Linked DNA regions of Homo sapiens: region 2 is linked to region 1. Evidence: fine-mapped expression QTL. A gene starts in region 1. The other region holds a variant in brackets. All regions are shown on one strand. Distances are from middle to middle. Region 1 holds the start of SIRT1 (sirtuin 1). Region 2 has its middle 11 kb from the start of DNAJC12.

Region 1 (5,000 bases):
GGCACGAGAATGGCTTGAACCCGGGAAGCGGAGGTTGCGGTGAGCCGAGATCACGCCATTGCACTCCAGCTTGGGTAACAAGAGCGAAACTCCACCTTTTAAAAAAAAAGAAAAGGAAAAAAAAAAAGAAAAGATAATAATCTAGCTAGAATGTATCATACAATCACAAACAATAGCGTTCGTGAAACGTGTAATAAATGGACATTTACATAAAAACGTCATTCAAATATAACCTTGGCAATGCGCACGTTAAACTTACACAATACTACAAGTACCTCTGCATTGTTTCCTCTATTAAATAAACAGTATTAATAACACAATTATTATTAGGTAAATAATAAATTAGTACTCAACTGTGTTGCTTGAAATCAGGGTCTCTTTACTAAATCAGTCCCTAAAAACACATATTACTTTTTTTTTTTTTTTTTTTTGAGACGGGGTCTCACTCTGTTGCCCACCCTGGAGTGCAGTGGCAGGATCACAGCTCACTGCAACCTCGAACTCTAGTACCTGGGACTAAAGGTGTGCGACACCACGTCCCGCTTTTTTTACTTTTAGTAGAGAGGAGGTCTCGCTATGTTGCCCAGGCTGGCCTGAAACTCCTAGGCTCAAGAGATCCTCCCGCTTTGGCCTCCCAAAGTGCTAGGATTACACGAAAGAGCCACCGCGCCCGGCCTGACCCAAATATTGATAAAGATGAACACCTATCAAGGATAGAAACTCCTCAGATCAAAAATAAGAAACCTGACCGGGCGCGGTGGCTCACGCCTGTAATCCCAGCACTTTGGGCGGCCGAGGCGGACGGATCACGAAGTCAAGAAATCAAGACCATCCTGGCCAACATGGTGAAACCCCGTCTCTGCTAAAAACACAAAAATTAGCTGGGCGTGGTGGCGGGTGTCTGTAGTCCCAGCTACTCGGCAGGCTGAAGGAGAATCGGTTGAACGCGGGAGGCGGAGGTTGCACTGAGCCGAGATCGCGCCACTGCACTCCAGCCTAGCGACAGAGCGAGACTCCGTCTCAAAAAAAAAAAAAAAAAAAAAAAGAAACCTTCAAGAACATGACAACTGCAACATATCTGCTTCATTATGCTAGAAGTGTTAAGTTTGTGTCTCAATACTACATACATACAAAAAAAGCATGTTTAGCCCAAACACCATTACCGCACAAGAGCAAGATTAGAATAAAAGTAATATGAACAGCTCTAAAAGTACTCTCTCTCCCATACCCACTCCTAACTGCATTACAGAATGGTAATGTCTTCAGGAACAGCCACGTTCTTTAAATTTTGCAAGCTGTGACTATAGAAACAGCTTTCCTCTTTCAAAAATTGTAATTTCAGTCATAAAAATATAGACCAAAAAAAGCAAACTGCACAGGTGTCAAGTTTGCAAAAAGCAATTGAAAACGCAGACCAACGGGACAGCCAAAAAGTTGCAGACTTAAGTGTGCTGGGGGGTAGAGGAGAAAAGCAATGAAAATAAAAAATAAAGAAAAAGAAAAAAAAAGCTCTAACAAAAGCAATATGCTAAAAGAGTAAGAGGGGGAGAGAAACTTATTTTAAAGCGACTGCGAGAGTCTCCCGACCTGGCTGCTGCGGAAAGAACAAGGCCGCCCAGGCGGGCCACGGACGGAGGAAAAGAGCGAATCCACTGGCAGCTCGCGCAGTAGGAACCGCAGCCCCGGAGGAGCGCGGCTGAACGGAGGGCCGGGGTGGGGAGGGGAACGCCGCGGAGCCTGCCCCGAGCCCCCAGCCGCCCTCAACCTCAGGCCAGTAGGAGCCCGGGGAGAGGGAGGAGGAGATGCGCAGTTCCGGCCGCCCGCACCCTGCGCACCTCGGTACCCAATCGCCGCCGCCGCCGCCTCTTCCTCCTCCTCGCCCTCGTCGTCGTCGTCTTCGTCGTACAAGTTGTCGGCCAGCGGTGGCTCCCGAGATGGGCCCTGCAGGCCCGGCCCATTGTCTCCTTCCCCAGCCGCCGCAGTCGCCTGGGCCTCTTGCTCCCCGCCTGCCGCCGCCGCCTCTGCCTCCGCCTCCCGCCACAGCGCCGCCGCCGCCGCACCCGGGCAGCCCCTGGCCGCCGCCGGCACCTCACGCTCTGGGGCCGCCCCACCGGGCTCGCCCGGGCTCCGCTCGAGGCCGGGACCATCTCTCCGCGGCCTCTTGCGGAGCGGCTCCCCGGCGGGGGACGACGCGGCCTCCCTGTCGGCCCCCGCCGCCGAGGGGGAGCCGCCGGGCTGAAGGGCGAGGGCCGCCTCGTCCGCCATCTTCCAACTGCCTCTCTGGCCCTCCTCCCTCGCCTCCTCTGCTCCCGCTCGACGCGCGGCACTGGCGCCCCCGCGGCTCCGGCTGCGGGAGATTTAAACCCCATCACGTGACCCGCCCCATCGCCGCCCCCGCCCTCTCGGCGCTCCCGCCACCCACGCGGGCCAGACCACAACACTACGGGTCACGTGGCGGGCGGAGGCTGTTGCGTCTACCGCTCCGCCTGGGCTGGAAGCGCACTCGGCCCCGGCGGCCGGCGGCCCTTCCTCTTTGTGGCGAGCGTGTAGTGCAGCCAAATTCGCCCCTCGGCCGCTTTCTCAACTTCTCTTTCAAACTGACCTCAAATCACTACCGCCGGAACAGCTCAAGTTTTGGTCCGCCCTGGGAATTTCCACGTCTTCCTGAAGTGTACACCTGGCCTGCCTTAGCCTTGTCTATATTTAGCTAAGGGTTAAAACACAGCTGAAGCTGGCTAAGACTTAGCTCCCTGAAATACGTTGGATAGTCGTTCTGTTTTGTTAATAAGTAGGAAGAGAGGCAAAAGGAGGCGGCTCCTTTCCCACTCTCCTCACACCGTTCTGACAGCTCCTCTTTTGCTCCTTTTTCTGCTCCTTGCTTTTCTCCTTAGTCGGTTGCTTTTTTCCCCTCTCTCCCATCACTTGTAGGGTGGTATACATTGTAAAATCCTTGAAGGCATATGTCCTCCTGGGAAGACCTTTGACGTGGAGGTTTGGAGATCAGCCGATCTACTTTCTGGCCCCAGCTTGGCTTCAAACGTGTGTGAATTCCCTCCTCCGGGCCTCAGTTTTCTCACGTGCAGAATGGGTTTGTTGGGTCAGTATGAGAGCATGGGAAGGAAATGACTTGGCCTCCATGCACATCTGCCCTTGGTTAAAATTTGGAGTCCTTCCTTTCTAGCGTGAGCTATCTAGCCGTTTCTAAACTTAATTTTTCTCATGTCTTAAATGGTAATAAGTATTTTAAAACGTCATAGATTTAAATGAGATAACCAGATGTAAAACGAGGGGTACCTAGTAGTTCAAAAGGCTTAGTGGAAAGCCCTTCCACTTTCCTCTCTCCCTGAAATTCTGGCACACTGTGACTCCATATCTAATCTTAACTAAGGACCCATATAACCCATGGTAGATCTAGAGCCAGTGTTTGTTATGGCATCTGCCTGGAGCACAGCGTTTCTATCTGTTTAAAGGACCTCTACGAGTTTATGGTACACTGTCCCTTAAGCCTAGTATGGGTTCTGGCCATACTGCATCAATTACCTGCGTGACTTTAGGCAACCAACTTAAAGCTGTTTCTTCATCCTTAAAATAAAAAATAAAAAGCTGGAAATATATCGCTAAGGTCCTATCTACATCCAAAAGTCTTATTTCATCTGGTCACCACTATTCATTTCTGAAAGTAATCATCTCCAGTCCTAGAAGCCTTAAAACCATCTTTGGTTGCGTGGGGGTCAAGGGGAGGGAGAGCATTAGGACAAATAGCTAATGCATGCGGGACTTAAAACCTGGCTGGGCGCGGTGGCTGCTGCCTGTAATCCCAGCACTTTGGGAGGCCGAGGCGGACAGATCACCTGAAGTCGGAAGTTCGAGACCAGCCTGACCAACATGGAGAAACCCCGTCTCTACTAAAAATACAAAATTAGCCGGGCGTGGTGGCACATGCCTGTAATCCCAGCTACTCAGAAGGCTGAGGCAGGAGAATCGCTTGAACCCAGCAGGCAGAGGTTGCGGTGAGCCGAGATCGCACCATTGCACACCAGCCTGGGCAGCAAGAGCGAAACTCCGTCTCAAAAAAAAATATAAATAAAACCTAGATGAGGGGTTGATTGGTGCAGCAAACCACCATGGCTCACCTATAAGTATGTAACAAACCTACACATTCTGCACCTGTATCCTGGAACTTAAATTAAAAAAAAAATCTTTGAAGCGTTCCTTCATACCAATCCCTCTGAAATCCATCTGACCAATCAATGACCAAATCCTGTTGTCCTTCCTTTCTTGCTACACTCCTCCCAATTCCTGACTAGGCACCACACTCCTAGTGGTTGACATACTTGGTCCTCCCCACTTTCTGTCTTACACTACAAAATATTTCATAAATTGACTCTCAGCTACGTTGGTGGAATGCAATATATGAAATGTTGAGAGTCAGTATCCCAATAAAACAGAAACAAAATTCCCAGCTTTTTTGAGAAAAAGATGTCTGTAAGCTTATGAGCATCCTGTTGTTCATTAATTCATTTATATTTATAGTATATTATTGACACGTGAAGTTTATGAACTACAAGAAATGCTATGTGATCAATATTATTGTTAGTATGCTGAGAGGTCAGAGATGCAGTATGCTTTTCAGGTAGGATAAATGAGAAACAGAAATTGTATTACAACAAACACAAAAACAAAAAATCCCAATTAGACTTCTGGTCTACCACTGGTTAAGAACTAACATTAAGGCTAGGCGCTGTGGCTCACGCCTATAAATCCCAGCACTTTGGGAGGCCAAGGCGGGCGGATCACCTGATGTCAGGAGTTCGAGACCAGCCTGACCAGTATGATGTAACCCCGTCTCCACTAAAAATACAAAAATTAGCCCAGAGTGGTGGCATGCGCCTGTAATCCCAGCTACTCGGGAGGCTGAGACGGGAGAATCGCTTGAACTCAGGAGGTGGAGGTTGCAGTGACCTGAGACAGTGCCATTGCACTCCAGCCTGGGCAACAAG
Region 2 (5,000 bases), 35 kb after region 1:
GTACATGCCATCATGTCTGGCTAATTTATTGTATTTTATTTTTAGTAGAGATAACATCGCACTTTGTTGCCCAGTTTGGTCTTGAACTCCTGGCTTCATGCGATCCTCCTGCCTCCCAAAGTGTTGGGATTACAAGCATTTTCTAATATGCCACAATTCTGGCCAGATAATTTGATGTAACATTTTAAACATTTTCTTCACCAGGGACTTTGGAGTCAGACACAGCAGAGTTCAAGTCCCAGCTTTGTCACTAGCACATAATAAGAGCTCACTAATGGTGTTAAATAAAATTTATAGGCCATTGGTTTGAACTGAGCTCCTGCACTAGGCCCAATAGACAAAACCAAAATGAAGTTACTCATGCCAAACTACCATGTCACCAAAACAAAACTAAGTTGCTTATTCCACCTTCCAAGAAATCAGGAGAGAAACCCACACAGGCCAGTTTCAGCTGGCATAATAAGAAAGTCGGCTGTGCTTTAATTTTACAAGGAAAGTAACTTTGAAACGACCAATCTGCTTTTTGTTATCTCTTTCTGCTTTCTTCAGCCCCTTTTTGGCTTATAAAGCCAGCCTCCTGCCCAGATCCCAGAACACTCAATTTATTTTACAGAATGAGGTGTTATCTGATTTATTGCAAATAAAAGCCAATTAAGATCTTTAAATTTGTTGTAATTTTATCTGATGAGTGGTTATTATACGTCTATTTTTTTTTTTTTGAGAGAGTTTCGCTCTTGTTGCCCAGGCTGGAGTGCAGTGGTGCGAGCTTGGCTCACTGCAACCTCCGCCTCTCCGGTTCAAGTGATTCTCCTGCCTCAGTCTCCGGAGTAGCTGGAATTACAGGTGCCCACCATCACGCCCAGCTAATCTTTGTATTTTTAGTGGAGACGGGGTTTCACTATGTTGGTGAGGCTGGTCTTGAAACTCCTGACCTCAAATGATCCACATGCCTTGGCCTCCCAAAGTGCTGGAATTACAGGCGTGAGCCATCGTGCCCGGCCTATTATACTTCTTATTGTTACTTAAAAACAAACAAACAAACAAACTACTTTTAGAGCAGTTTAGTTTCACAGCAAAATTGAGGGGAAAGTACAGAGTTCACATACCCCATCTCCCTTCCTCCCAGAATAACCTATCAACATCCTGCACTTACTATTCTTAAAAATGGCATTAATAGCATTCATCATCGCACCTGATTATAACTTGAAAACGCTATTTCTTTTTTCATTTTTTGAGACAGAGTCTTGCTCTGTCGCCCAGGCTGGAGGGCAGTGGTGCGATCCCGGCTCACTGCAAGCTCCGCCTCCCGGGTTCAAGCGATTTTCCTGCCTCAGCCTCCCGAGTAGCTGGGACTACAGGCCCCCGCCACCACGCCCGGCTAATTTTTTGTATTTTCAGTAGAGACGAGGTTTCACCGTGTTAGCCAGGATGGTCTCCATCTCCTGACCTCAGGTGATCCGCCCGCCTCGGCCTCCCAAAGTGCTGGGATTACAGGTGTGAGCCACCGCGCCCGGCCTGAAAACGCTATTTCAACAGCCTTTGGAGAATCATTTACGAATTTCTAGGTATTCATGTATTCTATGTCTGACTCAACAGTAACGCCTTTTGACTCATCCGGTTCTTGGACCAGGACGCTGTCTTGCTCTGTAAGCCAGGGAGAGATTTTATTAGGCTATTTTACAAATGCAGGGTCTGAAACAAAAAGGTTACGGTCCGGGCAGGCTATGTTTTCTTTCTACTGGATCTTAAGCTGGACCGGATCAGTAGATTGAGGAGCAGGCTTTAGAGAGCCCAGTGTCAATCTGGAATCTAAGCCCTTCTATCAGAGCGCAAAACTCGTGTCCAGGACCCCAGCCTTAGCGGGGAGCAGGGGCCCGTGTGTCGGGAAATAAGGACGAATGGTTGCAGGCACAGTTTCTGGAACCTGCGTTTTGTGCCTCCTTTGCTCGTATTTGGAAAAACCGCTGGGGAAAGGCGCCGATTTCATTCTGCAATACAGAACTTTGAAGC[G/T]AGGCTGGAAGGAAAAACGAGAGGCGGAAAGGGTCAGGTCAGAGTGCGACTTTCAGGGCCGCGCAGAGCCCACCTGTGGGCTGGCTAATTTTCATCCTCGCTCGGAGCTTCTGGAGCTTGTAGCCTCTTGTTTTCCAGCCTTTCTCCTTTTGATTTGAGCTTAGTTTCAGTTTACCTACTTCCAGACTAGGGCATTCGATGTAAAAATAGCACTTACGGAGGGCGGGGGGCGGAGGGGGGGACGGTGTCCCTGAGTATGAAAGTAACTGGCTTGTTTCCGGTTCCTCTGTGGCGCCGTTCTCGCGATGCTCGCGATGCCTTATGGGAGTTGTAGTCTCGGGTGAGAGACGCTTCCCGGCAGGGAGGAACAGGCCTCCAAGGCCTAGGATTGAGCATCGGACTCTCCGTGTCTTGTGTGTGTGGTTCTCTTCTCTTCTCTTGTCTTGTGTGTGTGGTTCTCTTCTCTTCTCTTCTCTTCTCTTCTCCCCTCCCCTCCCCTTCCCTGCCCTCCCCTCCCCTCCCCTCCCCTTCCCTGCCCTCCCCTGCCCTCCCCTGCCCTCCCCTTTCTTTTTTCTGACGGAGTGTCACTCTGTTGCCCAGGCTGGAGTGCAGTGGCGCGATCTCGGCTCACTGCAACCTCCGCCTGCCTGGTCAAGCAATTCTCCTGCCTCAGGCACCCGAGTAGCCGGGACTATAGGCGCCCGCCACCACACCCGGCTAATTTCTGTATTTTTAGTAGAGATGGGGTTTCACCATTCTGGCCAGGCTGGTCTGGAACTCTTGACCTCAAGTGATCCACCCGCCTTGGCCTTCCAAAGTGCTGGGATTACAGGCGTGAGCCACCGCGCCCGGCCTCCACAGAGCTTTAACTCTGTTAAAAAGTTCTACATAATTTCTACTATACGCTATATTCTTCCATACAGAAGAAAAATTATGGGATGACTACATCGACTTCACACAGTTTAAAAAAGTATAAAAGGAAATGAAAATCTTCTTTTGAGTACCTGCCCAGTTCCTCCCCTAAAAGAATACTGTTGCTTGCTTTTTTTTTTTTTTTTTGAGATGAACTTTGGCTCTTGTTGCCCAAGCTGGAATGCAATGGCGCAATCTCGGCTCACTGCAACCTCCGCCTCCCGGGTTCAAGCAATTCTCCTGCCTCAGCCTCCCTAGAAGCTGAGATTACAGGTGTGCGCCACCACTCCCAGCTAATTATTATTAGTAGTAGTAGTAGAGACGGAGTTTCACCATGTTGGCCAGGCTAGTCTCGAACTCCTGACCTCAATCAGGTGATCCACCCGCCTCAGCCTCCCAGAGTTCTGGGATTATAGGCATGAGCCACTTCGCCCGGCCTGCTGCTTGCTTTTTTTTTTTTTTGAGACGGAGTCTCGGTCTGTAATCCAGGCTGGAGTTCAGTGGTACGATCTTGGCTCACTGCACCTCCACCTCCTGGGTCCCGGTTAAAAAAATTCACCTGCCTCAGTCTCCCGAGTAGCTGGGATTACAGGAACGCACCACCATGCCACGCTAATTTTTGCTTTTTTTTTTTTTTTTTTTAAGTAGAGACGGGGATTTCACCCTGTTGGCCAGGCTGGTCTTGAACTCCTGACCTCATGATCTGCCCACCTCGGCCTTCCAAAGTGCTGGGATTATAGGCGTGAGCCACCGCTCCCAGCCTGTTGCTTGCTTTTTAAAGGCAGTTATCTTTAGAAAAAATTACAAGTGCAAATGTACATACTATTAAAAAGTACACAATAGAGATAATACTGTAATACTCTTCTCAAACCTGTTTTTTCATTTGATAGCACTCGTTAGACATCTTTCCATACTTGCACATAAAAAGCTATCTTTATTCTCTTTTCACTGGCAATACAATAGTTCATCCTACAAATAGCATAATTTATTCATCTCCTGCCCTCCTCAACTCCACCGATGAACATTTTGTTGTATATATATTTTTTCCTGTTGCAAACGACGCTGCAGTGGTCCTCTTGAACATATTTTGGTGTATATCCACAAGCTGAATTTGTAGAGACAAAATTGCCCTGTCAAGTATAGATATGCTTTATAAAAGGTGATAAATACACCAAATTGCCAAATTGTACCAAATTACACTCTCATCCAACAATGTATGGAAATGCTTTCTTCGTCATTTCTGTTTTCTGGCATGGGTATTATCAAACCTTTGCTAATCTGAGAGGTGAACAACTTTATCCTCTTTGGATTGATTTGCAGTTTCATAATTATTAGTGATGTTGCACTACTATTTGTATGTTTATTGGTCGTTTGTATTTCTGAAAGTAGTTGTATTTTTGGCTTAATTTTCTTTCTTTCTTTCTTTTTTTTTTTTTTTTTTTCTAGACGGAGTCTCGCTCTGTCGCCCAGGCTGGAGTGCAGTGGCGTGATCTCCGCTCACTGCAAGCTCCGCCTCCCAGGTTCACACCATTCTCCTGCCTCAGCCTCCCGAGTAGCTGGTACTACAGGCGCCTGCCACCACCCCCGGCTAATTTTGTTTTTTTTTGTATTTTTAGTAGAGACGGGGTTTCACCGTGTTAGCCAAGATGGTCTCCATCTCCTGACCTGGTGATCCGCCTGCCTCGGCCTCCTAAAAGTGCTGGGATTACAGGCGTGAGCCACCAAGCCCGGCATTTTTGGCTTAATTTTCTGTTGTGTTGTTAAGCTTTTTAAAATTGATTTGTCTGCACTTGTATATTAAGGAAGTTAGCCTTTTGTCTGTTATGAGAATTATGAAATTTTTTTCTTTGTATATTATTTGCCTTCTGATTTTGCTTTTGTATTTTTTTGGTCACATAAATGTGCTTACTTTTTTTTTTGAGACAGGGTCTTGCTCTGTCGCCCAGACTGGAATGCAGTGGCGTGATCTCAGCTCACTGCAGCTTGGAGTTCCCCAGACTCAAGCGATCCTCCTGCCTCAGCCTCCCTAGTAGCTAGCTGGGATACAAGTGCTTTTTTTTTTTTTTTTTGTAGAGACT

The links. PIP is the estimated chance that this variant, and not a neighbour inherited with it, causes the effect.
Region 2: its variant is the best candidate, but not a certain one, in a credible set for the expression of SIRT1 in whole blood (INTERVAL, PIP 0.88).

What each region holds. Positions count from the first base shown.
Region 1 is chr10:67,881,987-67,886,986 of GRCh38, reverse strand. SIRT1 (sirtuin 1) reads right to left here and starts at 2,331. Exons shown (of 9, transcript NM_012238.5): 1 at 1,836-2,331. The coding sequence starts at 2,265. RefSeq lists silencers at 1,626-1,745, 1,542-1,836, 2,271-2,455, 1,956-2,495, promoters at 2,263-2,438, 2,265-2,476, 2,264-3,295, 2,266-4,651 and enhancers at 2,576-2,735, 2,756-2,815.
Region 2 is chr10:67,846,793-67,851,792 of GRCh38, reverse strand. No RefSeq gene overlaps it. Among named protein-coding and RNA genes, the nearest start is that of DNAJC12, 11 kb to the right of the region's middle. RefSeq lists enhancers at 2,257-2,316, 2,347-2,396. The variant G/T (reference allele first, on the strand shown) is at 2,011.